Homo sapiens: one gene and its partners. The protein of the gene in region 1 purifies or fractionates together with the protein of each later gene. This does not show direct contact. Each region holds a gene or a part of one and is shown on either strand. Other genes may lie near its edges. The genes, in order: SURF4, DERL1, PTGS2, TMED7, ADGRG5 and TMBIM4.

Evidence for each region.
Region 2: the proteins of SURF4 (region 1) and DERL1 purify together in Homo sapiens (affinity purification with western blotting, with the first as the bait; one study listed by BioGRID). This does not show direct contact.
Region 3: the proteins of SURF4 (region 1) and PTGS2 purify together in Homo sapiens (affinity purification with western blotting; one study listed by BioGRID). This does not show direct contact.
Region 4: the proteins of SURF4 (region 1) and TMED7 fractionate together in Homo sapiens (co-fractionation; one study listed by IntAct). This does not show direct contact.
Region 5: the proteins of SURF4 (region 1) and ADGRG5 purify together in Homo sapiens (co-immunoprecipitation; one large-scale study listed by IntAct). This does not show direct contact.
Region 6: the proteins of SURF4 (region 1) and TMBIM4 purify together in Homo sapiens (co-immunoprecipitation; one large-scale study listed by IntAct). This does not show direct contact.

The regions. Positions count from the first base shown.
Region 1 is NC_000009.12:133,359,896-133,364,203, forward strand, and holds the end of SURF4 (surfeit locus protein 4), read right to left. Parts: intron 3,865-4,308; coding exon 3,598-3,864; 3' UTR 3,581-3,597; coding exon of another isoform or gene 3,569-3,580; 3' UTR 1,569-3,568; downstream 1-1,568. Other genes in the region: SURF2 (surfeit locus protein 2), read left to right, coding at 55-234, 370-539, 1,161-1,244. UniProt on the Homo sapiens protein: Endoplasmic reticulum cargo receptor that mediates the export of lipoproteins by recruiting cargos into COPII vesicles to facilitate their secretion.
Region 2 is NC_000008.11:123,034,942-123,040,200, reverse strand, and holds part of DERL1 (derlin-1), read left to right. Parts: intron 1-5,259. UniProt on the Homo sapiens protein: Functional component of endoplasmic reticulum-associated degradation (ERAD) for misfolded lumenal proteins. Forms homotetramers which encircle a large channel traversing the endoplasmic reticulum (ER) membrane.
Region 3 is NC_000001.11:186,669,585-186,674,410, reverse strand, and holds the end of PTGS2 (prostaglandin G/H synthase 2 precursor), read left to right. Parts: coding exon 1-58; 3' UTR 59-2,620; downstream 2,621-4,826. UniProt on the Homo sapiens protein: Dual cyclooxygenase and peroxidase in the biosynthesis pathway of prostanoids, a class of C20 oxylipins mainly derived from arachidonate ((5Z,8Z,11Z,14Z)-eicosatetraenoate, AA, C20:4(n-6)), with a particular role in the inflammatory response.
Region 4 is NC_000005.10:115,615,103-115,620,361, reverse strand, and holds part of TMED7 (transmembrane emp24 domain-containing protein 7 precursor), read left to right. Parts: exon of another isoform or gene 1-294; intron 295-1,162; exon of another isoform or gene 1,163-1,223; intron 1,224-3,916; coding exon 3,917-4,153; 3' UTR 4,154-5,259. Other genes in the region: TMED7-TICAM2 (TRAM adaptor with GOLD domain isoform 1 precursor), read left to right, coding at 3,917-4,044. UniProt on the Homo sapiens protein: Potential role in vesicular protein trafficking, mainly in the early secretory pathway. Appears to play a role in the biosynthesis of secreted cargo including processing and post-translational modifications.
Region 5 is NC_000016.10:57,570,143-57,573,642, reverse strand, and holds part of ADGRG5 (adhesion G-protein coupled receptor G5 isoform 1 precursor), read right to left. Parts: intron 3,226-3,500; coding exon 3,108-3,225; exon of another isoform or gene 3,010-3,107; intron 2,474-3,009; exon of another isoform or gene 2,322-2,473; intron 1-2,321. UniProt on the Homo sapiens protein: Orphan adhesion G-protein coupled receptor (aGPCR). Ligand binding causes a conformation change that triggers signaling via guanine nucleotide-binding proteins (G proteins) and modulates the activity of downstream effectors, such as adenylate cyclase.
Region 6 is NC_000012.12:66,141,403-66,146,661, forward strand, and holds part of TMBIM4 (protein lifeguard 4), read right to left. Parts: intron 4,557-5,259; coding exon 4,439-4,556; intron 1-4,438.

The DNA of each region.
Region 1 (4,308 bases):
CAGAGGACCGTGGGGGGTGTGGAGGTACCCAGCACGTGCTGGCTTATCTCCCAGATGAAGAATGTCAGAAGCAAGGGGTGGAGTACGTGCCTGCCTGCCTGGTGCACCGGAGGAGGAGGAGGGAGGACCAGATGGACGGTGACGGGCCTCGCCCGCGGGAAGCCTTCTGGGAGCCCACATCCAGTGATGAGGGGGGAGCTGCAAGTGATGACAGCATGACAGACCTGTACCCACGTAAGCAGAACAGGCCCTGCTTCTCCCTGACCCTCTACTGTCAGCAGGGAGCAGACTGTGGTGCTGCCTCCCCTGCAAAGGTGGCAGCGAACTCAGCCTAAAATAACTGTCAGCCAATCCCTGTGTTCCTCCCAGCTGAGCTATTCACCAGAAAGGACCTTGGAAGCACGGAGGATGGGGATGGCACTGATGACTTTTTGACAGACAAAGAGGATGAGAAGGCAAAGCCCCCAAGAGAGAAGGCCACTGATGAGGGCAGGAGAGAGACGACCGTGTACCGAGGGCTGGTCCAGAAGCGCGGGAAGGTGAGCTGTCACCTCCTCTGTTAGTGTGGCAGTGGCTTCCCCTAGTGATGGTTTTCCATTTGTTTAAAAAAAGAAAACTGAACCTTTTTCACAAGTGAAATCCCAAGCCAACAACACACAAGAACCATAGAAGCCGAGGCCGCTGGCTGGCGGAAGGCCGTGAGTGCCTACCATTGCTTCCCAGCCAGCCCCTTGTGGAAGCCAGGCTCTGTGGACCACGGTCAAGACCACTGGTTTGTGAGGACACCCTCCTACCTCAGACTATGAGCTGTGGCGTGTTTGTCCTTACCCCTGGGCACAGGGACCTGATTACTAGCCACCACCTTTGCCTTTGCCATCAGGGCAGGAGTGGAGACTTCCCCGCCTTTGGTAGATAAGCAGGACCAAGGCCAAAAGAGGACAAGGTCCTAATGAGTGTGTGGCATTGCACTGTACTCCTCTGAGGCCCTGCTGAGCGGGGTCTAATCCTGCAGCTGTTAAGGAAACGGGGGTGGAGAAAGCCTCTGTGGGTATTTGACCGACACCTCTGAGGCTGTGTGGGTGGGGAGAGCCCTGCACTCCAGGGCCCCTTCTCCATGGGATCAGAAAGGCTCAGTAATCAGAATTTTGTTTATCCCACAGAAGCAGTTGGGCTCGTTGAAAAAGAAGTTCAAGAGTCATCACCGCAAACCCAAGAGCTTCAGCTCCTGTAAACAGCCAGGTTAATAAAAGCACATGCCGTGAAGTTTCGAGAAAGCCTTCAGATATTTCCCCCGCTCCTGATCAAACCGTGTGTCCTCTGAATGATCGGCTGTCCCCAGTGTCTTCTCTACCCACTTATCCTTGTCTCATGACATCTGCTGCCCTCTAAGGCAGGGCTGAGGGAGTCTGTCCCCCACACCCAGGAAGCAGCAGGGACTCTGAGGGACTAATTCTCTCTGGACATGGCTTCTGAGTGGTCTTCAGAGAAGCCTAGAGAAGTAACCTCGCTCACTGGCATCCTGAGGGGAGCCCCATTCAGGCTGGGCAACGCTATAGGATCACACTGCATACAACAAACGCCATTATTTATTTTGATGTGTTTCCAAAAATCAAAACGTTTTCAAACACAACTAAGATATAAAATACAGCATAAAATGAGATTTAGATCTGTTTCCCACATAAAGCAAAAAAATCTTAGAAATTGTTTTGCCAGAATCAATTGGTAGATCCCACTTATCCTCCCCTCCCTGCAAAGGCATCTTCCCGAATCAGGCCCTAGCCCACCCAGGGCCAGGAGAAACAGGAACACCCACTAGGACGGAGGCGCTGCTGGTGCAGAACTGGTGCTGACTGCTCACGTGGCCTCCTTTGGTCCACCCTACTTTCCACCAATCAGCCAACCAACCTTGACCACAGAGAAACCGTGACTTGGCCAAGGTCATTTGATGGGGGCTGTCATACGGCACTAACAGGGAGCGAGGTGTGGACCAAGAGACAGCCCTGGTGAGGTTGAAACACTGAGACAAGCCAGTCTTCATGCAGTGAGCACTTGAATGATCACAGGAGAAGAGAACCCATGTCCTGAAGCCATTGCTCGATCTTACCAATATTCGGGGGTAAGGAAGTAGGCTACCAGGGGAATATTTGCAAACGCGTTGGGACTAGTTCGGCTGTGTTAAAAAGGTAGGTGACTTCCAAAAGCACTTATGAGCAGAAACCTGCCTCACCCCTGCCCTGCAGAGCCAATGGATGAGAGGCCAAGAGGGAGGCAGGCTCGGGGCTGGGCCGCAGCAGCCCTGGAGACAGGCTGAGCCAGCCTGTCCCCAGATAGGTCTAGGGGCCAGAGAGGTGTTCGACTACCCTTGTGGCATTTACTATGGTGCAGACGACAGGGAGCAACAAGCAGTTAAGCTCCCCCAAAAAGAGAAACACAGTATAAGGCAGTGTTAGAAAACTTTAAATACAGGATTAAGATCAAATCGGTAAGGCATCACAAATTGTAAAAAGGAATTTTGGCTGCATTCGGCATAGCAAACGGACAATCTGAGTGAGCGACAGCCTCAGGAAAGTGGTGTGTCGGGGCTGTCCACAGGGCGAGTGCAGCTGGGAAAGGGCGGTGCTGCTCAGCCAGGGCGGCCTGCGCTTTCGAGACCTTGCTCAGAAAAGGCCCCATGTGAGGTAACTGGGTTGAGTCCGTGGGTCTCCAGTGCTGGGAGCTCCTGCCACACCCCCTGCCCACAGCGGCTGCGGCTCTGCAAGCTGGTCTGAGCAGCTGGCCAGGCTGGCTTGCAGGGTGCTGCTGCTGGGGCTACCCCTGTGTGGTCTCACTAGCCCTTCCCACTGCCAGCTTGGAGGCCAGCAGCACCCAGACCAGCAGCTTCCCCAAGGACTTCTTGCCCCTCCACCTTGCCTCAAGCTACTAAAACTCCCAGGGTGTTACCCAATAAAACACTTGGCACCAATCCAAGCTGATTTTCTGACCGATGACTTTTATCATAAACAGCAGCTTCTACCACCCCTTTAATACTGCATCATTCTTTGGGTGTCCCTAAATGTTTTCACTATTCCTATAAAATACAATGCGGGGCAGAAACAACATCAAAGCCACTGGTGTGATTTTAAACCAGGGAGATTAACTGTTTTGAGGTTTGGCTGAACCACCCAAAATAATTTAGTAGTTTCCGCTAAAAATGTAAACTTACAAATAAGAGGGAGACTGCTTTGAATGATAATACCAATGCGTCTGCTCACAGTACAGCTTGAAGGCCCCCTCCTGTACCCCCACAAAAAAACTCAAAAATAGGACTGAGATGCCACAGCCAAGCGGGCTGTTCACTCCAAAGCCTCGGCGTGGGGGAGGCTTCCAGCTGCCAGGCTGGCCTGCACTGAAGGGTCAGACGCCAGACTGTGGCTCCAGAGCAGACTGAGCCATCGATTCTCAGGTGTCTCTGCAAATAAAGTTCTCAAAACATCTGTGCCTTTACCAAGGGAGGGGAAGGGAAGAGGATACATAAAAGCTGGCAGTTTTGTTGAATCCACCCCGAACCAGTCCTTGACGGCCACGGGTCTTAGCCAGGCAGGTAGGGATCTGTGACTGTTACCACTCCTTCTTCTTCTCATCCATGGAGACACCCCCAGGGCCCAGGGCCACCACCAGGAGCAAGCCCCCAATCACCGACATGGTCTGGAAGAAGTCGTATTTCAGGAAGTCATGCATGGGCTTGTAGACTGGAATGGTCCAGAAGGCGTTGAAATATACGTTGATGGCAAAGAGCCACACAACAAGAGTCAAAGCAGCCAGCTTGGTTTTAAAACCAATGGCCACTAAAATCATCAGAGCTGTGCCCACGATGTTCTGGACAATCTGCATAGGTTGAAACGTAAGAAATTCAAAATAAATGTGAGGAAAAGAGATGCTTTATAAACAAAAGTTCCAGCTGCTGCACGTCATGAAGTCTCTATCCATCAGGCTGATGTAGCTACTGCTGAGACGGCTGCTGGTGCAAGTAGGGAGATAAAAGCCAAAGGGAGGCAGGAGGCAATAAAGCACCAGCTTTGAAATGTGGAAGGTTTGGGGAAGACTGAAGTTCCCAACTAGTAACAGGCTGTGATTTACCAAGATGAATCTCTAATCCATAACTAAATTCCCAAGTGCTTCTTGGCCCACCCAGCCATCCAGGCCAGAAACATCCTCTCTCCTCTCTCCATGGCGCCAGGAGCTCTTCCTGGACACTACCCGGCCAGGGCTCTCAGTCAGCTCCGGAGGTGTGCTCTGGAAGCTCCTGGAGGCCTGCCCCTGACACCTGAC
Region 2 (5,259 bases), on another chromosome or scaffold:
TGTTGCCCAGGCTGGAGTGTATATGGCGCAATCTTGGTTCACTGCAACCTCTGTCTCCTGGGTTCAAGCAGTTCTCCTGTCTCAGCCTCCCAAGTAGCTGGAATTACAGGTGCACACCACCATGCCCAGCTAATTTTTGTATTTTAGTAGAGACGGGGTTTCGCCATGTTGGCCAGACTGGTCTTGAACTCCTGACCTCAGGTGATCCACCCGCCTCAGCCTCCCAAAGTGCTGGGATTAGAGGCGTGAGCCACTGAGCCTGGCCTTATCCTTCATTTTTCTTGCTACATATTACCCTTTGGTATTTATTAGTCTGCTTCCCCTCAGAGAATAAGGCTCCATGAGAGCCGTTCACCACTGTCCTTGTTACCTGGAATAGTGCCTGGGACGTAGTAGGTGCTTATATATTAACTGAGTTGTTGGAAGTAATTGGGCACTTGCTGTGTGCTGGGCACTGGGGTACAATAGTAAATAGGACTGAAAAGGTTTCAGAGCCTGTGAAGACATAGAGGCACGTGTTTTAAGGGGTGTAATATTTGATAGGGTGTTCCACCCAGAAAGGCCTCAGAGAAGACATTTGAAGAAATTGGAATACTGAGGAGCCAGCCAGCCAGCTTTGGGTAGATCTGGCTCTGGAGACAACCTTCCAGGAAGGACTAGTAAGTGAAAGGCTCAGAAGTAGGAGCTGGGAACAGGAAGAAGACTGGGTTGCCAGCTGGCACAGGGTCAGCTGTAGGGTGAGGATTAGTAGATGACAGCAGGGAGATAGCCAGGGCTGGGTGTAGTAAAGCTAAGATGGAAAGGTGGGTTAAAGCTAGATCATAGTTGAGCCTTGTAGGTCATGTTAAGAGGTTTGAACTTTATTTTGAGGGCACTATGAAGTCTTTGGAGCCTTGTGAACAAAGGACTGACAGATTGCCCCGACTATTCTGTGGAGTGGACTTTGTGTGTGTATGGAGGGGGTTGAAGGAGGAAGGGCTAGGTGATGAGATCAGAGAGATGAATCCAGTTAGGAGGCCAGAGAGATGGTGGTTTGGATCAGTGTGGCTGTGAAGATAGAGAAAAGGGCATAGACTTGGCAGAGGGGACGAGATTACAGCCGAATGGATATAAAGAGTGAATGGGTGAAGCGAGCAGGACTGAAAGATACTACTGTTTTCACAGGAGCAGCTGAGTGGATGGCGGAGCCCTTGACTGAGATGGGGAATGGTCAGGGATACCTGGGTTGGGAGTGGGGGCTGGTATGGATGAAGAGTTAGGTTTTGGCTGTGCTAAGTCTTGAGATGCTTTTCAGGCATCCATGTGGCGAGGCCAAGGGAGCAGTTGGATATAAAAACATGACTCTGGAGTGCAGCTGGAATTGCATACTGTTCTGTGTTTATTACTTTACTAAATATTTGTTGGCTGAGAGAATGTTGTGTACTTTGTCCCTGGTGGCTTGTTGGGTAATGTGTGGTCATGGGGAGCAATGGTGGCATATTAATGTGTGAGAAGGACCTGGTCAAAACCGGCTTGTTGTCCCTGTTAGCAAAATCCTCACTTGTGTAGTGACACTAGTGACTACACGATGTAAATAAGCACATTGTAAAGAAGCAATGTAAATAAGCCTAACAGGCTGCGGGTGTATAAGGTTAAAAGTGGTGAACTGATTAAAAAGAGTAATCGTTCTTGTCACATCTTCCACAATTTTGTCATCTTCCCTGTATTATTTCTTCTCAGCTGCCAGCAGGAGGCAGGACAGTGTACTGCCCAGGTGTGAAAAGACCAACAGCTGTACCTTGTCTTTTCTTCCTGTTACTCTGATTCTTGCCTATTTTGGACACATGTAACTTTCAGACCCACCTGGAGGAACTCATTTGCAAATGAAGCAGTCAAGGAAAAACTGCATTTGAGAGGCTGCTGTGCACGGACAGTGTGCGGTGTGCTTTAGCAGAGTTCTGCTAGAAAGTTCCTTTTTTCCTTAGAAGCTGAATCTTTCACAACTTACAAAAATGGGGGAGTGATTGATTTAGAATTGTGTGCTCATGTTGGAAGTGACAAGTTATTTTTCCTCCTCAGCTCTAGATTCTTGTGTGTAGCTTGTTGGTTTAGAACGCTGAGGTTTATAATGTTATTTCTTTAGTTTGGATAGGTTGAAACAGGTGTGTGTTAAGACTCATTATACTGTTGTCTACGATTTCTCCCTATTCTGAGTCCCTCAGATTTATGTTCATCAATCAAATAGTTCACAATAATGAAATGTCTTCATATTAATCGTTGATTAACTACACAAGAGGTGGCAATTCCTGCTGCCTTTGTGTTTTCTAAGGTTATGTCTCCCAGGGCCGCCTGCATGGCTATATTTCTTCATTTCTTTGGACAAAATAACATCACCCTGTTACAACTTCCCTGAGGTCATGTCACTGAACTCTGACAGTCATCCTGAGATAAGTGTTACCCCCATTTTGTAGACAGCTTCAGTTTCAGTTTCTATTTCGTTGAGTCAAGGATAGTTCTAAGCTGTTTTGTTTAACTCCTTTGCATAATATCTACGAAAAAAATAAGTATGTAGCAAAACATTTTTGAAGGTGATTTCTTCCAAATCAATCATAGCAAATTGTTTTTCCTTTTCTATTCGAGTAGAAAGGCTGTTAGATTTCAAGTAGTTGAATCATGGTCTCAAGGCCTGGCTCAGTCCCCTGCTAGTTGTGTACCCTTAGGCAAGTTATTTATCCTGTCTGAGCCTCAATTTCTTTAGGATCTGAGGATAATATCATAGCATATTAACTTTGTTCTAAGACTCCATTGATTATACGATGCACCATCAATTTAATGCAACTTTTTTGGGGGACAGGGGAGTAGAAATTACATTCAACGAGTGTATTGATTGTAAGACACTCTAATTTCAGAAACACAGGAACGAGTACCTTCAAATTGAGGAAATATGTTATCTACTTCTTGCCTCTAGTATGTAGAACACATAGAAAAATGTTTGTAATACCCAATAAGTAGCCTGATAAATAAGCTATTCAAAAATAGTTGCCTCCTACGTGGTTGGTATGGGAAAAAAAATAGTTGCCAATTTTTATTTATCAGCCAATACTTTATGCCTTATTTCCTTCTCTCCTGGACAGTAAGATTCTAATTTTAATTAGTAATTGCAATTGAAATGTAACTGCTGGATGATTATTCTGCTTTGTCTTCTTAAAAGCATCCTGACTTGAAATGGGAAGATGTGAACTCTTGATTTCTCTAATTTATTTCCAGGAATAAGAAATGGTACCAACCAATTCTGTGACTCAGCCTTGTGCTTATATTTGCCAAGCTTTTGCTTATATATCACATTTAACCTGATGACAGCAACCTTAGGAGACTGATTTAAGGGTGTATTGGGGAAGAGAGACGTTTCAACATAGCAGGGAGGAGAATGAACTTGGACTATAGGCTGAGCATAGAAGTTCTATATCCATCAAGGTTTGGCTATAGAACTCTAGTGGCAAGTGTTCTGGTACGTAATTTAAGATCTTTCCTTAGTAGTCCTGTCCATGTTGAACAGTTCTGCTGTGTTCTGTAATAATGTTGCCCATTAGATTGTGGCTTTTTAAAAAACTTTTTATTGAGTTACAATATACAAGCAGGAAAGTGTATGTATAATAAGTTTATAGCTTGAGTTTTTAAAAATTCAAAACATGTATACAGCCAGCATTCAGATCAAGAAACAGAATCTCTAAAAGCTTTCTCCTGCTTCCTTCTGGTCACTGTCCTCTCTAAGGGTGACTATGCTCTTGATTTTTAATACCATGTATTGTTGTTGCCAGTTTTTATGCTTTTTATAGGTGGAATTATGAAGTATGTTCTCTTTTGTGTCTACCTGCTTTTATCAACATTATGAGAGTCACCCATATTGTTGCATGTGGTTATAGGTTGCTCATTATGGGACCATACCACAATTTATTTACTCATTCAGCTATTAATGGACCTTTTGGGCAGTTTCCAGTTTGGCTATTATGAATGGTGCTGCTATGAACATTCTAATACATGTCTTGGTGAACATATGTACTTCTTGGTGAGGAGAAATAGTAATTTCTGTTGCCTATATATCTAGGAGTAGATTTGATGGCTTCTAATTGCTCTTTTTAAAGATTAAGTGCCTTTCATTTGTTTAAATGAATGGAAGGGGCCTTTTCTTGCCTACCCGTTGTGTCTCCCCACCCAGCAAAAAAGGCCACAGTTTACTAAACTAGCATTTGTCACACAGGTGCTCATCATCTTTCTTGCTTGGTGACTGATATATACTTAAGTCCGAATCAAGTGATCCTTATTATTTCAGACAAATCCTCACTTTTCATACTTTAAAAAAAAAAACACTAGATTCTGGATGGCAAATTATTTCAGTAGCAGATTGTTTAGAAGATTTTAGCTAAAGGATGGCTGCAACCTACACTCTGAAGTTGTTGGACTAATAACTGAGGAACAATGTCTTATGTCTTCTTTAAGGGTGTATATAGCAGTGAGCACATGGGCTACATGTCCTTGTTAAGTGAGGAACTCTAATTAGGGCCCAGCTTTCCTCCTGAAAAAACTGGGATCATTATGGGCCTGGCCTTGAGGTTGCTGTGGACTTAAAATGAGATACTCCCCCACGAGTCCTCTCAGTAAGTGTGAGGCAGGCAGTCCTCTGTCTGCAAGTCGTGGCTCTTTGTGCTGCAGTTGGCTGCCTCTTAGGCTTTCCAGGGTTGAAAATGGGCCTCTTCACTCCTGGCACTGAACGTAAAGCCAGTTCCTTCTCCTTACTGTTTACATATCAGGTCGAGGAAAAAATGGGATTTAGTTGGATACTTACAATGGGGATTTCCGAAATATGTTACACTGTGTCCTTCTAAAGAGATAAGCTGTCTTCTGGTGTTTTCAGATTATAATTTTAAAGTAACACAAAAATAATATTAAGTCTTTTAGATCAATGAAAGCAAGTATAACTCAAGGGTAGGCTTAATGAACAGGGAAAAGAAGTGAGATATTTTGACAGACACTGATTTCCAAAGAACAGGTGCAAACAGTGACTAAAAATAGTCTTATGTCATCAGCATTAGAGAAAATGTAGTCAGACAAAAACAAGGTTTCTTTTCCAAAACCAGGCCTTGAGTAACTTATAGGAATATGGGGGTAGTTGAAATATGAATTTATAAAAACTGGTTAGCGGGTGTTTCCGAAAAGATTGTGATAATACAATTAACACACCCACACATATTAATTCTTTTTGCATAGTATCTTTTTAATTCA
Region 3 (4,826 bases), on another chromosome or scaffold:
CGGACTAGATGATATCAATCCCACAGTACTACTAAAAGAACGTTCGACTGAACTGTAGAAGTCTAATGATCATATTTATTTATTTATATGAACCATGTCTATTAATTTAATTATTTAATAATATTTATATTAAACTCCTTATGTTACTTAACATCTTCTGTAACAGAAGTCAGTACTCCTGTTGCGGAGAAAGGAGTCATACTTGTGAAGACTTTTATGTCACTACTCTAAAGATTTTGCTGTTGCTGTTAAGTTTGGAAAACAGTTTTTATTCTGTTTTATAAACCAGAGAGAAATGAGTTTTGACGTCTTTTTACTTGAATTTCAACTTATATTATAAGAACGAAAGTAAAGATGTTTGAATACTTAAACACTGTCACAAGATGGCAAAATGCTGAAAGTTTTTACACTGTCGATGTTTCCAATGCATCTTCCATGATGCATTAGAAGTAACTAATGTTTGAAATTTTAAAGTACTTTTGGTTATTTTTCTGTCATCAAACAAAAACAGGTATCAGTGCATTATTAAATGAATATTTAAATTAGACATTACCAGTAATTTCATGTCTACTTTTTAAAATCAGCAATGAAACAATAATTTGAAATTTCTAAATTCATAGGGTAGAATCACCTGTAAAAGCTTGTTTGATTTCTTAAAGTTATTAAACTTGTACATATACCAAAAAGAAGCTGTCTTGGATTTAAATCTGTAAAATCAGTAGAAATTTTACTACAATTGCTTGTTAAAATATTTTATAAGTGATGTTCCTTTTTCACCAAGAGTATAAACCTTTTTAGTGTGACTGTTAAAACTTCCTTTTAAATCAAAATGCCAAATTTATTAAGGTGGTGGAGCCACTGCAGTGTTATCTTAAAATAAGAATATTTTGTTGAGATATTCCAGAATTTGTTTATATGGCTGGTAACATGTAAAATCTATATCAGCAAAAGGGTCTACCTTTAAAATAAGCAATAACAAAGAAGAAAACCAAATTATTGTTCAAATTTAGGTTTAAACTTTTGAAGCAAACTTTTTTTTATCCTTGTGCACTGCAGGCCTGGTACTCAGATTTTGCTATGAGGTTAATGAAGTACCAAGCTGTGCTTGAATAATGATATGTTTTCTCAGATTTTCTGTTGTACAGTTTAATTTAGCAGTCCATATCACATTGCAAAAGTAGCAATGACCTCATAAAATACCTCTTCAAAATGCTTAAATTCATTTCACACATTAATTTTATCTCAGTCTTGAAGCCAATTCAGTAGGTGCATTGGAATCAAGCCTGGCTACCTGCATGCTGTTCCTTTTCTTTTCTTCTTTTAGCCATTTTGCTAAGAGACACAGTCTTCTCATCACTTCGTTTCTCCTATTTTGTTTTACTAGTTTTAAGATCAGAGTTCACTTTCTTTGGACTCTGCCTATATTTTCTTACCTGAACTTTTGCAAGTTTTCAGGTAAACCTCAGCTCAGGACTGCTATTTAGCTCCTCTTAAGAAGATTAAAAGAGAAAAAAAAAGGCCCTTTTAAAAATAGTATACACTTATTTTAAGTGAAAAGCAGAGAATTTTATTTATAGCTAATTTTAGCTATCTGTAACCAAGATGGATGCAAAGAGGCTAGTGCCTCAGAGAGAACTGTACGGGGTTTGTGACTGGAAAAAGTTACGTTCCCATTCTAATTAATGCCCTTTCTTATTTAAAAACAAAACCAAATGATATCTAAGTAGTTCTCAGCAATAATAATAATGACGATAATACTTCTTTTCCACATCTCATTGTCACTGACATTTAATGGTACTGTATATTACTTAATTTATTGAAGATTATTATTTATGTCTTATTAGGACACTATGGTTATAAACTGTGTTTAAGCCTACAATCATTGATTTTTTTTTGTTATGTCACAATCAGTATATTTTCTTTGGGGTTACCTCTCTGAATATTATGTAAACAATCCAAAGAAATGATTGTATTAAGATTTGTGAATAAATTTTTAGAAATCTGATTGGCATATTGAGATATTTAAGGTTGAATGTTTGTCCTTAGGATAGGCCTATGTGCTAGCCCACAAAGAATATTGTCTCATTAGCCTGAATGTGCCATAAGACTGACCTTTTAAAATGTTTTGAGGGATCTGTGGATGCTTCGTTAATTTGTTCAGCCACAATTTATTGAGAAAATATTCTGTGTCAAGCACTGTGGGTTTTAATATTTTTAAATCAAACGCTGATTACAGATAATAGTATTTATATAAATAATTGAAAAAAATTTTCTTTTGGGAAGAGGGAGAAAATGAAATAAATATCATTAAAGATAACTCAGGAGAATCTTCTTTACAATTTTACGTTTAGAATGTTTAAGGTTAAGAAAGAAATAGTCAATATGCTTGTATAAAACACTGTTCACTGTTTTTTTTAAAAAAAAAACTTGATTTGTTATTAACATTGATCTGCTGACAAAACCTGGGAATTTGGGTTGTGTATGCGAATGTTTCAGTGCCTCAGACAAATGTGTATTTAACTTATGTAAAAGATAAGTCTGGAAATAAATGTCTGTTTATTTTTGTACTATTTAAAAATTGACAGATCTTTTCTGAAGATAAACTTTGATTGTTTCTATACATCTTTGTCATATGACATAAGATTTCTCTGAAGCATTACTCTTAAACCATTATCTTGCATTCTCCTACCTATTCAAAACTAGGACTGGCCCTTCATGAAATGGTTTTGCCCTCAATTATATAGAGGCTTCCTAGAGTCACTATTTAAATCTCATAATCCTTATTCACTGCGACACTGTGTTGGAAAATGTCTAGTTTGTGTATCTTTACAGAAGATGGCAAACAAGCTTATTTTCATTGCCTAGTCTAGAAGAAGAAGAAAAAAATACACAATAAGGCAAAGAATAAGACATATATTATGAAGGGGGCACAAAGTTAAGAAGTTCAAAGAGGAGGAAATTATACAAAGTTGGGCAAATCATTGATGCAAAAGCTCATAGGCTTTTGTTGTACCTCTATCCTTGACATCTTGGTAATTTCAATATCTACATGGACCACATATTTAGCATCTTCCCTGGCCTCTCCTCTTTGGCCTTCTCCATTCCAGGGATGGCCTCTTCCACCATATTTCCTGAAATCATACATATCTTGATATCATTATGATTAATTACAGCACCACTTTCAAAATCTTGATTCCAAGCATCTTCCAGCTCACCTATTTTATTGCTTACACTCTAACATCTAACTCTCAGTCTCACTGAACCTACCGATCCACCAACCTCATCACTTCACTATTTATCACCTGTTTTATCTTTCCATTTACTTCCATATGCATCTAGCTCAGATTCTATTGTCCATCATTCTAATCATTCCCCTCTGCTCTGTATATTCTCCCTCTACTGTGCTGAATTGACACAAGTTGATTAAATCCAGCCATTCTCCTAATCTGTTTTTTATTTGGCTTCTCAGTAGCATTCAACACAAATAGCTATAATCTCTTTACTGAAAGAACCCCTGCCCCAACCTTGGCTTCATGGTTTGATACTCTCCTGGTCTTTCTCTACCTTTCTCAGAGCACTATTGCTCAGTCTTTTCTCTCTCTCTTTTTTTTAAGCTCTTTCTCTTCTACTGTATGTATAAGTTGAAGTGTCTTGATATCTGCTCTGTCTGCATTCCTCCAGATTAATCACATTTAAGCTCATTATTTGAAATAATAAGCACTCAGAAATAAGCACTCCAGGACCAACGTCTAATTGTCAATTGACAACATCTCCAAATTGTCAATTGACAACCTCTCCACTCAAAGTCATCAATTTAATTGCTTCTTTTACATTCTTCCCTCCCAGAACCATATATCCCAAATAATAATTGTCCAACGTTAAAGACACCACCATACTCTTTCCTTCACTTGCATAGCCAATCCAACAGCAATCCTGTTGACTACAACCCACAAATAAATCTTAAATCTGTCACCTTTTTTCCAACTTCACAACCTAGCAGTGTAATAGTCTATTAATTGGTGTTCTCTTGTCTATTCTTTCCTCAGCCCAAACCATTCTCCTTATGGCAGTGGCAGTAATTTTATATATATATATACACACACACTTTATACTTTAAGTTCTGGGACACATGTGCAGAACGTGCAGGTTTGTTACATAGGTATACATGCGCCATGGTGGTTTGCTGCACCCATCAACTTGTCATCTACGTTAGGTATTTCTCTTAATGCTATCCCTCCCCTAGCCCCCCACCCTTCGACAAGCCCCAGTGTATGATGTTCCCCTCCCTGTGTCCGTGTGGTCTCATTGTTCAACTCCCACTTATGAGTGAGAATATGCAGCGTTTGGTTTTCTGTTCCTGTGTTAGTTTGCTGAAAATGATGGTTTCCAGCTTCAACCATTTCCCTGGAAAGGACATGAATTCATCCTTTTTAATGGCTGCATAGTATTCCATGGCATATATGTTCCACATTTTCTTTATTCAGTCTGTCATTGATGGGCATTTGGGTTGGTTCCAAGTCTTTGCTATTGTGAACAGTGCCACAATGAATATACATGTGCATGTGTCTTTATAGTAGAATGATGTATAATCATTTGGGTATATACCCAGTAATGAGATTGCTGGGTCAAATGGTATTTCTGGTTCTAGATCTTTGAGGAATCTCCACACTGTTTTCCACAATGGTTGAACTAATTTACAATCCTACCAACAGTGTAAAAGCGTTCTTATTTCTCCACATGCTTTCCAGCATCAGTTGTTTTCTGACTTTTTAATGATTGCCATTCTAACTGGCATGAGATGGTATCTCATTGTGGTTTTGATGTGC
Region 4 (5,259 bases), on another chromosome or scaffold:
CTAACTGATGAGCATGGAATTTTGAGACTGACAGTCTTTAAAATCTATCTTAATTCTTACATGTAGGCATTTCACAGAGAACTTCAGACTTTTGTAGTGAAAAATAATGTTGAAAGATTTTATGAACTTTTAATTGTAAAGAGAAAGAAGCATTAAAATAAGGAGGAAGATCACTAAGGTAGAAACATCAGTGGTAAAAGAAGGTTGGGAAGGCTGAGCAGTGTTCCAATCTTCTGAAGCATTTTCTTTAATCCCTGAAGGAATGTTGCTGTCATACTCAGGAGGCTGGTGTAACTGGAAGCAAAATGATGCCTAAATTAGTAGATAAATAATACCATATCATAGCCTTTATACCATTACTTAGTGTTACTCAAGCTGCTGTAACAGTAACTTGTGCTGTAACTTTAGGTGAAATATTGAAGATTAATGGTAAGTCATCTCACAAAAATAGTTACAAAAGCTAAATTCAGATTTATTTTGGAGACATAGAGAAAGCGTAAAAAATTTAAACCCAGTGAACAACTATTGCTTAGGTGATGAGGACTGTTTTATTTCTAGTTCAAATACAGCAAAATCCAAAATGCTTCAAAATCCAAAACTTTTTTTTAGCTCCAACCTGATGACACAAGTGGAAGATTGTTACATCTGATCTCATGACACATCATTGAAAATATCATATACAGTTGCCTTAAGGCTGCATGTATAAGGCATATATGAAACATAAATGAATTTCATGTCTAGACCTGGGTTCCATCACAAAGATATCTCATTATGTATATGTAGACATTCCAAAATCAGAAAAAATCTGAAATTCAAAGCACTTCTGGTCCCAAACATTTTGGATAAGGGATACTCAACCTGTATGGGCTTAGATCGTATCTAAAAGTTACTCAATTAGGCATGAAAAAGAATTATTTACCACTTATTCGTTAACATCTTAAACTGGTATTTTAGTGTTCCCAGGTTCTATTTAGTCTCTTGGCCAAAGTCATGGTGAAAGAAACAGCTTTAAGAATGTGTAAAAGCCTTAATTCATAAACCTGTTGTTAGAATTAGCAAGATATATTCAAATACTCTTAATTTTAGAAATGTTCTCTTTATTTTAAGGTCTTGTGTGAAGGACACCTTGCTTTGTAAAATGATATTTCTTTGGGGCCATTACCTTAACCTGTATCCATTCCTTCATGAATTTTAACTTGTATAAGGTGGCTTGTTCTAAAAACCTAAGTGGGTAAATATAAGAAATGAATGGTAATAAAGCAGTTAGTATCATACCCGTCTTTATCCATGCTACATTTTTTATTTTTCTCAGTCTTATTTTTCTACTTTCAAAAAGATAATGTATCATATAATAGGGATCATTATAAAGCAACTTTTCATACTTTAAAATTGAAAATTACCAGCTAGTAAGTTCAGAACAAAATTACCAGCTAGTAAGTTCAGAACAAAATTACCAGCTAGTAATGCAGAATAAATGATAAAAGTTTTACTCTCACCATTTTTTACCTGTTGATAAAATGATGGATTTAGAGTAGGCAATGATCAGCAGTCACTACTAAAACCATTAAGTAAAAGGCTGATGGGGAACTTTATACTGAGTGGATCAGACTGAATGATCATTCACAAATGGAGAGATAACTAGACATTATGTGCCTTATCATAATATGCAGTAAGAAGTACACAACATTGACTACTAGACGTTCCCACCCAGAACATTGCACCTGAATTCCATCAAGTCTCTAGCTCCAAATGCCAGTTTACAAGAAATACAGAGGATAAAGGAATAACATGGGAATGCAATCAACAAAATCCAGGACGTGGGAAATGCCACAGGATAGGGGTTGATGGCAAGGAAAAAAGGAAAAACAAGGAAGAAAGCCTAAAGATTAATGAACACTTACATCAGCCAAATGATTGTGTTAACCTTACTTGGATTCTTACTTGAAAACCAACTTTGAAACAATAGGGGAAATTTGAACACTATTTCCTGACTTTAAGGAACTGTTTTAGATTATTTCATGTGTTATAATACTATTGGGGTTATGTTTTTAAAAAGTGTTATCTTTTAGAAATAAAGTATAAAAGTATTTGTAGCTGAAGTGATAAAATATCTGAGATTTGCTTTAAAAATAATCGGGGAATGTAGATGAAGCAAGATTAGCCATGTGTTAATCTTTGTTGACATGGTGGGGGTTCATTGTACTTTTCTCAATACTTTTGAATATATATGGAAGTTTTCACTGTAAAAGTTTTTTAAAAATCACATCTCAGGCCAGGCGTGGTGGCTTACGCCTGTAATCCCAGCACTTTGGGAGGCCGAGGCGGGCGGATCATGAGGTCAGTAGTTAGAGACCAGCCTGACCAACATGGTAAAACCCTGTTTCTACTAAAAATACAAAAATTAGCTGGATGTGGTGGAGTGCACCTGTAATCCCAGCTACTCAGGAGGCTGAGGCAGGAGAATCACTTGAACCTAGGAGGTGGAAGTTGCAGTGAGCCAAGATTGCGCCATTGCACTCCAGCCTGGGTGACAGAGCGAGACTCCATCTCAAAAAAAGTCACATCTCAAAAGTTGTAGAATGCATGTAATTTAATTTCTGTGATTTTCTCTAATCCAGTAGTTCTTAACCCATACCCCATGGACAGGCTTGAAGGAGTTCCTAAATATTCTGCATTTGGGTCAACTCCTTGCCTTTATGTGTACTTTCCAGGTGAAGAATCCTTGGGCAATATGCCATTTTGAGAATATAGAGAAAGCAAATCCTAGAAGCACATCTCTCTCTAGCTCCTCATCACAAATTAGGAATCATTTTAGCACAGTTTTGCAAATTTTTCATTCCTAGGGGCCTGAACAAAGCAAGGACAACAAAAATATTTGACTCTTCTAATAGGTTAATGCAGTTTGTTGGCCTCATAATTTCTTACATTTTTTAAAAGCACTTTTAATAGAATATTTTAATAATTATTCCTTTCATACTTACTTTGGCAGAACTTCATTAAACATTATTTTCTAATTTCTATATTCCTTAACTAAAATTAAAACAAACTTAGATTTGTTTTTAAAACTCTTAATACAGGCTTGTTGCATAAAATAATAATAAAACATATATTTTACCACTAGGATTAAGTTTGCAGCAGTAGAAAAATATTAAACCATGGTATACAAAAAAACTAGTCATTTAACCTTTCTCAAAACAGATGGTATAATAAATGTATAAAAAGGCAAGCTGTTATCAGCTAAAGGCTCACAAATTGATTACACAGTGAAACTGAAACTTGCATCCTGTTGGGAACATACATATTGGTTTAGTTGACTGGCATGAGGGAAAAGGCTGATTTAACAAATAGATAAATGTAAAAAAACAAAGTCATTCCTATTCTGATAGATCCCTTTCAGATTTAAAAGTTACTAACGATTTTGATGTTGTGGCTGTTTTAAACATAGTTCAAAGAACTTTGACTAATTCAGCTTTTTTTTGTACTGTGCTTTGTTTATTTTTATAGATATTTGGGCTTTGACTTATATTCTCATTGGTGAGCTCACTGCCATTTTCTTCCTAATTCTTCTTTAAAGAACTTGGGCTGGAAATTCTGTAGTCACCAACCTTAGCTGATAAGTATTTCTGCTATTGTTAGCTTAGTGTTCCATCTGCCCCCTTACTGATGCCATGGCTGTGACATCTCAGTTGGGGAAAACAGCTGCTTCATGAGATCTCTAGCCTTAACAGTTGTCCCAGTGAAAATGAGCAGGGGGGTTTCATTGCAAAGACAACTGGCATAAATGTATGAATGAATGCCAGATTAGTAGCATGTTAGTCAAAAGAGGAATTGAGATCAAATTGAAAGAAAAGCTGAATATGATAGATGAAGTCTACAGAAAGTATCACACATACTGACTGAAAATATTTCTCTGCAGATGGAATCTGCCTGTGTTTCAATTCACGAAGCTCTGAAGTCTGTCATCGATTATCAGACTCATTTCCGTTTAAGAGAAGCTCAAGGCCGAAGCCGAGCAGAGGATCTAAATACAAGAGTGGCCTATTGGTCAGTAGGAGAAGCCCTCATTCTTCTGGTGGTTAGCATAGGGCAGGTATTTCTTTTGAAAAGCTTTTTCTCAGATAAAAGAACCACCACAACTCGTGTTGGATCATAACTACGTTTTGAGAATTGATGCACCATTGCCACTGTAATATTGCTGTCCTCTAATTAATTTTAGGTACTGAAGAACTTAATATTGGCAACATTTTTAAATCCTTACTCATACACTTGTTGGGAGGGATGTACAATGCATATTCCCAAACTGTGGAAAGGACACCTTTTTTTATTTGTAAAGGTGGAAAAACTTTGGAACTCATTTTGGGCTATTCATGTTAAATATTCAACACCAATGATCTACTCTGTTCGCAGTTGTTTATATCTACTCTTCGCACACTAAACTTTGGTATTTTGATTCCTTTTAACCATTTAAGACTACTTTTCTTATAGGTAGTTGATATTTTAAAAACTTTAGATTTAATGTCTACATGTGTTAGGGAGGAAGAAAATTGCCTTTTAATTGTTAATAAGAAAACCAAATGTGATGAACTGTAGCCCAAGCCCTATTCTGCACTGTTCAGTTTTATGGAGGAAAAATAAATCTACCATAGGAATGTTAGTTAATATTGATATATCATGGTAAAATTGATTTCTCACTAGCTTAGAAAATGTCAGACTTTTGTTTTTGGGGTTTATAATTTAAACCAGCTATGCTATTTTTTCATAAAGGCATTTGTAGTACACAGAAAACAGTAGTTTCAGTAGTGTAAAAGAGTTTATACAGGCCTTAAATATCAGACTTTGTAACAGGTAGAAATATTACAGAATAATTTAAGACACTACAATGGGGGCAAATGAAATAGGAAAATTTTTAGTGAGTTACACGTACTCATTACATTTTCAGTGCTTTTACAAGGAAAAAAGGTGATATGTTTAATTTTAAAATTTTAATTGGCTAGCTCTTGCCCTTATATGACTTTAATGTCTGTGAGTCATTCCCAGCTTAAATTAACAATTGTTAGTATTAGTCTCACACATAAGTGCCATACATTTTATCCTCATGGATGTGATGCACTGAAAAGTTAGTTGCTCTCCTTTTTTCTTTTTTTTGTCGTGCATATTTTATTTCTGTAGTTTCTGGTTAGCTACCCTAAAGTGATTTAAAAATTTAGAATGCTTTGTGTTTCCTATTTGGTAATCTTCATTGACTTTTCTTTAGTTAAT
Region 5 (3,500 bases), on another chromosome or scaffold:
TACTTCATCCTCCTCATTTACAGAGGGTGTACATCAAGTAACCAATGGAAACCTCTAGAGCATATTTAAATCTCCACAAATTCTGTAATAGGGCTCTTGAGGCCCTATGCTCTGGCCCACTCCCACACTGTAGCGTGTACTTTCATTTTCAATCAATCTCTGCTTTTCTTGCTTAATTCATGCCTCACTCTTTCCTTTTTTTTTTTTTTTTTTTGAGAGGGAGTCTCTGTCACCAGGCTGGAGTGCAGTGATGTGATCTTGGCTCACTGCAACCTCCGCCTCCCAGGTTCAAGCAATTCTCCTCTCTCAGCCTCCTGAGTAGCTGGAACTACAGAATCCTGACACCACGCCCAGCTAATTTTTGTGTATTTTTAGTAAAGACAGGGTTTCACCGTGTTGTCCAGGTTGATCTCGAACTCCTGACCTCAGTTGATCCACCTGCCTCGGCCTTCCAAAGTCCTGGGATTACAGGCACGAGCCACCATGCCCAGGCTTGTCCAATTCTTGGTTCAAGACGCCAAGAACCTGGACACCCTCCACCAGTAACGATGTGCTTTATGTGACTTGTCCCCTGCAATCCCCATGACAACCCATAAGGCAAGTACATAATCGTCCTCATCCTGCAGATGAGGAAACTCAGGCTCTAGCTCAGGAACACAGTCCAGTTAGAGGCAAAGCTGGATCCTGAAGCCCCAGGCCCAGAGCCTGAGCCCCTAACTGTCACAATCCCCTGCTGAGGTTCACTTTGTGGCTCCTGCCCCTACAGTCACAAGGGTCCCAGGACATTATTTTGGGATTCCTCCAAGTTGATGAGTGTGGTAGGCGACCACTCACTTTCACCGCTAGGGAATATCCCCACGGGGGCAGCTCTACTGCAGTCCATTCATCCAGCATCCCGTCAGTGGACATCTGAATGATTTTCAAGGGTTGTATTTGTTTTGTTTTGTTTTTTGAGACGGAGTCTCGCTCTGTCTCCAGGCTGGAGTGCAGTGCCGCAATCTCGGCTCACTGCAATCTCCACCTCCCGGGTTCAAGCGATTCTCCTGACTCAGCCTCCTGAGTAGCTGGGATTACAGGCACCCGCTACCATGTCTGGCTAATTTTTGTATTTTTAGTAAAGATGGGATTTCTCCATGTTGGCCAGGATGTGTTTTTTATTTGTTTGTTTGTTTGAGTCAGAGTCTCGCTGTCGCCCAGGCTGGAGTGCAGTGGCGATCTCAGCTCACTGCAAGCTCCACCTCCCAGGTTCACGCCATTCTCCTGCCTCAGCCTCCCGAGTAACTGGGACTACAGGTGCCTGCCACCACGCCCAGCTAATTTTTTGTATTTTTAATAGAGACGGGGTTTCACTGTGTTAGCCAGGATGGTCTTGATCTCCTGACCTCATGATCTGCCTACCTCAGCCTCTCAAAGTGCTGGGATTACAGGCGTGAGCCACCACGCCTGGCCTGTTTTTGGTTTTTAACTGATGTTTGGGTTTAGGAATGTGTATATACATAGTAAGAGATGTTTTAAATTAAAAAAAAAAAAAGTCACAAACCCCAAGGTAATTGTTTCCTGAGAGGAGAGGGCAGAGTGAGGAAGACCCAGGGAGAAGCTGGCTCGTAGGTGGGTGTTCTCTAACATCTGTGCATTAGTGGGTCCTGTGGACGTGTCACTAAAGCTCCTTTGTCCTCATCATATTATTATATAAGAAAATAGGCTGGGCATAGTGTTCACGCCTGTAATCCCAGCACTTTGGGAGGTCAAGGCAGACGGATCACCTGAGGTCAGAAGTTGAGACCAGTCTGGCCAACATGCTGAAACTCTGTCTCTACTAAAAATACAAAAATTAACTGAGCGTGGTGGCACGCGCCTGTAATCCCAGCTACTCACAGGAGAATCGCTTGAACCCAGGAGGCAGAGGTTGCAGTGAGCCGAGATCACACCATTGCACTCCAGCCTGGGCAACAAGAGCGAAACTCCATCTCAAAAAAAAAAAAAAAAGAAAAAAAAGAAAATACATCTTCAGAGAGTATGTAAACTGAGGCCAGAGCCTCTATTTCCTCATCTGTAGGTTGGGGATGATTATGTACTTGCCTTATGGGTTGTCATGGAGATTGCAGAGAACAATTCATGTAAATTGAAGTCACATGTCCTCTGATACACCCGAGCCTCAATGTGAGAGGGATCAGCCCCACCTATGTAGCACGCAGTCCCCCGGCCCTGCTTCAGGGGCTGGGGGCCAGGCTCTGGACCAGCCTGCCGGAGACCAAGCCCCAGCTCTGCCACTGACTGGCTAGGGCTCCTCAGGTAGAGTTCTTAAGCTGCCTGTTTCTCAGGTGCCCTAACTGTAAAATAGGGCTGGCAACAGGACCCGGCCCTTGCCCTTGTGAAAACGAAGCCAGCTGATACCCAAGGCCTGCCACAGAATCAGCCCCCATCCTGAGCCTGCATCAGCCAAGAAGGAAAAAGGTTCCACAGCCAACTGCAAGTGAGTGATGGGCGCGCGGGGGTTCCTTAGGCTAGTCTATGTCTGGCTATTAGAAATGTTGCATAATAATAAAAAGCTTAACGTCCTCGCCTGCAGGGAGGGGCTATTAAAAAAAAAGCAGCAGCGTGTCCCCCGGCCCCTAAAGGCCCACCTCGCTGCCTCTCTTTGTCTCCCCCAAGCCCAGCCCCCACAGCACTCTTGTCCGACTAGGAGGACTTGAGAGGCCTGGCAGTGCCCAGGGCAGGTCGGGAGGAGTTGGAGCCTGGGTAGGTGCAGCAAGGTGGTCTGCAGGGGAACAGAGTCAAGTGCAGGCTGAGCCAGACCCTCAGGGCCTGGGCACTGGAGGGCAGGGCAGGACAGAGGAGGCGGGAGGCCCGGCTGCCCTGGCAGGTTGGCGAGCAGACGCTGGCTTCGTAGACTTCACCAGCATAGAACACAAGGCTGCCTCTGCAGGAGACCTGGATCCATGGAAGGGATGTGGTGGAGCCCCCTGCAAACTCCCCTGTCTAAGCCCCAGCTCCCTCTCTGCCCCACAGCCAGTGCTTTGCCTACAGGATATTCCATTTGGAGCCCCAGGCCCATGTGGCCCTTCTGCCAGAGCCAGGGAGCCCACTGCAGCCCTGAGGGCACTCACATGGACATGTTCTGGAAGCCTGTGCCATTCTCCCAGCTGTCGAAGACGGGGATTGTGCAGGGTCCGTATACCGAGCTCTTGACAGAGAGGGAAAGCAGCACCAGGAGGGCTGGGGCCCCTGAGGGGTGGGACAAAGGCTCAGGAGATGTGGGAGAGGGCTGACCCTCGGTCCCTGGGGCGGTCCCTGGGGCTGCTGACACAGAATTTCACTGGTCAAGGGACAACTGAGAGGAGACTGTTGTGAGCCCCCAACTTCAGAGCAATGAGCCTGGTGGTTTGGAGGAAGCTCTCCTCCAAGATGATGTTAGTGACGGCTCTACGATGGAACAGTGGTGGAGGGAGGAGTGGTCACACTGGGAAGGTGGTGGTGGGGAGCAAATGGGAGGGAGGACT
Region 6 (5,259 bases), on another chromosome or scaffold:
TTATAAAACCTAGAGCAACCTCTAATTAAAAGAACTATAGCTAATAAGCCAATAAAGAAGATAAACACAACCATCTTAATAATCACAATAAATGTAAATGGACTAAATACACTAACTAAAAGCAGAGGTGGTCAGATTAGATTTTTAAAAACCAAGATCCAACTATGATTTCTAAAAAAAAAACCTTGTAAATATAAAGACACAAATACATTAAAAATAAAAGGATAGAAAAACATATACGATGCTAACATGCTAACACAAATTAAGAAGAAAGCTGGGGTTGCTATATTAATAACAAAATAGATTTTAGGGCAATGATATTACTAGAGCTAAAGAAGGTCACTTCATAATGATAAAGGGGTCAGTTCACCAAGAGTACGTAACAATCCTAAATGTTTCTGCATCTAAAAATGAAGTTTAAAATAATATGATGCAAAATTATAGAATTTACATAAGAAATAGACCAATCCATACTTGTAGTTGGAAATTTCAACACCCCTCTCACATTGATAAAACAAGTAGGCAGAAAATTAGTAAGCAAATAGAACACTTAACATTATGAACCAACTTTACCTAATTGACATTTATCAAATCATCCGACAGCAGCAGCAAAATACACATTCTTGTCTAGTGCACAAAGAACATTTACCAAGATACCATTAAAAAATAAATAAATAAATAAATGCAAAAGGACTGAACTCATACAAAATAAGTTCTCTCACAGTAACAGAGTTATTTATTGTAATGCTATTTGGTGAAATGAAGGCATGATGAGAATCTAGTCCTCAGCTGTCTCTCTGAAATGGCCCTAAAATTTCTCAGGATACATCTGGCATACCTAAGTGAGAATGAGGTATCATGCTACCTCACAACATAGATCCTTCAGGACTGAAAGGGACTTAGGATTTGCTTTTTCATTCTTAAAGCCTAGGGAAATTCCAACGTTCCTGCACCATGGGGTATGGGGAAGGTGATATTAAGAACTTACAGCATCCGAGATATTACCCTACTTGCAGGCTAACAAGTTAGCCTGGCACAGTTTCATGGATGCATCAAGCTCCTAGGTCTGAGATAAAGGACAGTTTACAGTAATAACAGTAGTATCAGCATTTTTATGACAGGGCCCAGGTGATGCTAAGAGGGCCACATGACACCTACACACACAGTGGGTTGTGTTACAAGAGAGGAACCTTGAATTTAGGGAAGCAAGTCTTTTTTATAATGGAAAGTAAACATGCTTGCCCTCTGCTCTAGCGAGCACTATTTCTATCTTTCCAGGCTGTTCACTATTGGAAAAAAAAAACCCTTAAAAAGATTGTCTGGAACAAAGAGCAGTCAGCACATCATTCACAAGACATTCAGAAACACGAGACCCATGAAAAATCCTCTCCAATTCTTGTGGGCTTCTAATAAGACATTAGGATAGGGCTGCCAGAGGTCACTGGACATTAATTTACTCTTATTCACTAACTGGACAAGATCCTACATTTGAGCCTGATCAGACACTATTGACAATACATATTAAAACAGATACCTTTTCTCCACTACAACATCCAAGTTGAAATCTGACACACTTAGGCTCCCTGGTTAAGCAGCATGCCCCACCCAGCAACCTAAGTGTACACACACTAAAACAGTTATTTAGGGTCACAGGCTCCATTTGGTAAGTTTCTGGTAAGAAATTCAGCCTAAGACTTGTCAGTTTATGACAGCATTCTCTGTAGATACTGTAACAGGTAAAGATTTGAAAGTCATGTCCTACAAATATTCTGCCTAAGTTGTTAGTTCACTCTACTCTGACTCACATCTCATTAAATATTTAAGCATCAAAGAGAGCAAATTTTCTGAGAATATAGATAAGATATACCATGGACATAGTGCTGATTTTGCTATTCTAACAACTCCATCTAGAAGACTGACAAATCCTACCCTCATCCCTCTCAACAAGAAGCACAGAATAAAAAATAACTTACAAACAGTGATGTACCAGTAAACTGACTTTCTAGGAAAGAAAATGAGCCCTGATTTGTAGTGCTTCTTAATTTCTGTGGTGTACATACATCCTTCATGGCCTACTTTAAACTTCCAGCAGTTTAACAACTGACTTGCAAGATGCCTCATAAGCTGGCACAAGGCAACTCTAGCACACCAATGACCAGTTGCCACAGTTATCATATGTAGTTCTGAGATTTAATTCCTTTTGTGGCAGAATTACCACAGGATAATGATGTTGTAAAAACATCACAGCTTTAAGTCAATCTATGAAGCACTGCCACCATTGCCTGATACTACCATACATCCAAACATTTAACGCACTTCTTCAGTCCCTATTATGTCCCATAAACAGGTCAGAAGGAACAGCCTATAAACTTTTTAGAAAATATTTTCACAGAAAATCTTTTCCCTCGGTCTTTATATCCATTTTGGCACTCAGCTTCCACAACCACTTTGGCTTTGAGGCGTCACAGTAAGTAGTGCCATTAAGTTTTATTTAAAATGCAATAAAGTGCTACTCTTAAGTAGCTGAATCTATGGCATACTGACCAAAGTATAATTATTATTAGGATTTTGCTAGAGAGTCATTACATGGCAATATCCAGTAACTAATAGCAGTAGATGTGATTCAGTGGAGAACTGGGCTGTATACCAAGAGCAGTAGTGAAGTGTTAGGGTTTTAAATAGGTATACTGTAATCAAGTTTCCATTTTTGTATCACCCAACTGCTTGGTGGAAAAGAGGCTGGAAACTGTTAAGACTGGAGAATAGAGAGGCTGGTTGTAGTAATACAGGTAAGAGGCAATTTTGAAAGGGTTCCGTTTCCAGTACTACAGCAAGTAAGAACTATTCCAGACTAATTACTGCCCCTGTCCCACCCCGAAAAACTACTGAAATGATGCATAAAAGAGAAAACAAAGAATACGTTCTTAAAAACATCAAATAACTGTCAAGGTAGAATGGAATTATCAAATCAAAATCTAGGTAAAAGTGGAAACCCAAAGAAGTAATCATAGTACTGTAGCTGAATTTGCCCAACTACAAGAAAAGTCATCAATGCACTAAGCAGGGGTAAATTGCGGGGTGGGGGCAGAGAAGAACCATCCCTGGGAAATTGTCACCACAAGCTATCCCTTTGCTGATTTGTAGTCTAACTGAAGAACACTTGTGTGGTTGGGAAAACATCGTAAGCCATGAATTTAGTTTCAAGTGGACCCAATCCAATAGTTTTCCCAGATGCTAGGCGAAAACCCAAATACTGTATGGAAAAGTGCACCTTCAATCAAGGCCTCAAAGAAATTCAACAAATAGTTTTTCAAGGACAATTACATAGTCAAAAATAACTGAACACTTAAAGAAAGAAAATATCATAAGAATTATCAGAAACAGCAGACACAGACAGACGCACTTCAGAAATATCTGGTCTCAGATCTATATATGATCACTGTAATACCATTTCTATCAATCAATGTAAATTTATTATGAAGAGGCTGAAATATAAGGCAAGTTTACCAGAAAAGGATTTAAGAGAGATGATACTGGAATTAATGAAAGGGAGGGAACAGTTGGAGATTGGGTTGAGAAGAGGAAGTAGAACAAAACTTTCATCATATATGCCACACAAATATGTATGAAACATCCTTCCAAAGAAGGAAAAGAAAATAGAAAATGTTACCTCTCCCTAAATCAAACTCCATTCTAATGAAACTATTTAAGCAGCTCGCGCAATTGTCAGTGTTGGCTGACCAACTATATTTTATCTCAATAGAGACTTCTGGTGTTCTGGATTACCAGAATAAAAGGGGTGGGGGAGGAAAGAAAGTTTAGCAAGAGCAGAGTTTTGTAAATAGTGTTGTAACAGGAAAAAGAAAACGGTTGGGTGACTGTGCCAACAGGAAGCCACTGTGAGCTTAGAAAAGAGTCTATGCATTCCTACCAGGTGAGGGCAATGCTGTACCATAATCCTAATATAAAAAGGATCATTCCGTATATTTGTTTGAGGAAGGATACAGGTTAATCTAGATGGATCAAAAGGTCTTAAAGTTCATGCAGACCCTTTCAATACCTGTACTAATTACAGCGCTTCTTCCAAGAAGACGTGGATGGTCTTGGTAACATTTATGCTAAGACAAAGACTGAAGTAATTTCAGTAAATTCCATAATGTTAATAAAGCATACAAGCTTAAACTCTCTGGAAAGCTTATTTTTTTTTTTAATTCACTTCCCTTTCACTATAGGAGAGAAGCAAATAAGTCAAAGCCACTTTCCATTTCTGTGTATGTTCTAGGAGTAGGACCTGGCCCTAGTACTCAAAGAGATGATCTCTTATTACCCTCCATTTTAAAAGACAGTACCCAAAAATAACAGTGTAGCACATTCCTCAAAACCACCTATAATAATTAAAGACATCTATCTATTATATCCAAGAATATATACAACTTACCCTGCTCCAAATTTGCTGAAATCCTTCTTAGATTGTAGAGTATACACAGTCAAACCAAAAAATACTGTAGTAGTCAGTATGAAAGCTTGCAGAATAATATATACATCATAGAAAGTAACTGTAAAATTAAAACACTGATTAACATGCATATAAACATGCTCAATACAAAACAGCTTTTTCTGGCATTTTATAGAAATGCTTCATTTTCTCCTGTACTTTATGCCAATAAAAACAATTAGAAAAGATTTCTTATCCATCCTTGACTACATGGGTACAGTGAAACCACACCCATAATGCAATTAACAGTCTCCAAAAAATTCATTCATACAAAATCAGAGGTCACATTATTACCAAGTTAATGAAATGACTGGAGAGCTATCACGCCTGTAGCCAGTTTGGAGTTCTACAGGTATGGGAGTGATTCTCAGCCATCTCTGTCCCAGGCACAGTTTACCACCATCTGTGGTGATTGTCCATTATGGTTTAAATATCAATAGGGATGATTCTGGGTCTCCTGCCTGGCTGGGAATTCCTGGACAGTAGCAGCAAATCCAGCAATCATCTAGTTAGTTATACTTGGTTTATCAGCCCAAATCAAGGAAATTGGGAAAGAAAAATATTGGGGCTGTCTGGGGTTGCCTACCATTCACTTACCCTGCAGAGGACAGAAACCAACCACTAACTGCTTTATATCCAAATGTGTATTATCTTGGAGTACATTATTTTGGGGTTTACTGAATATATGCCAAATTCCTTTCTGTAATTTTAGAATAATCATCCATTCAATTATGGCTATTGTAATAAAACTCCTTAACATTTTA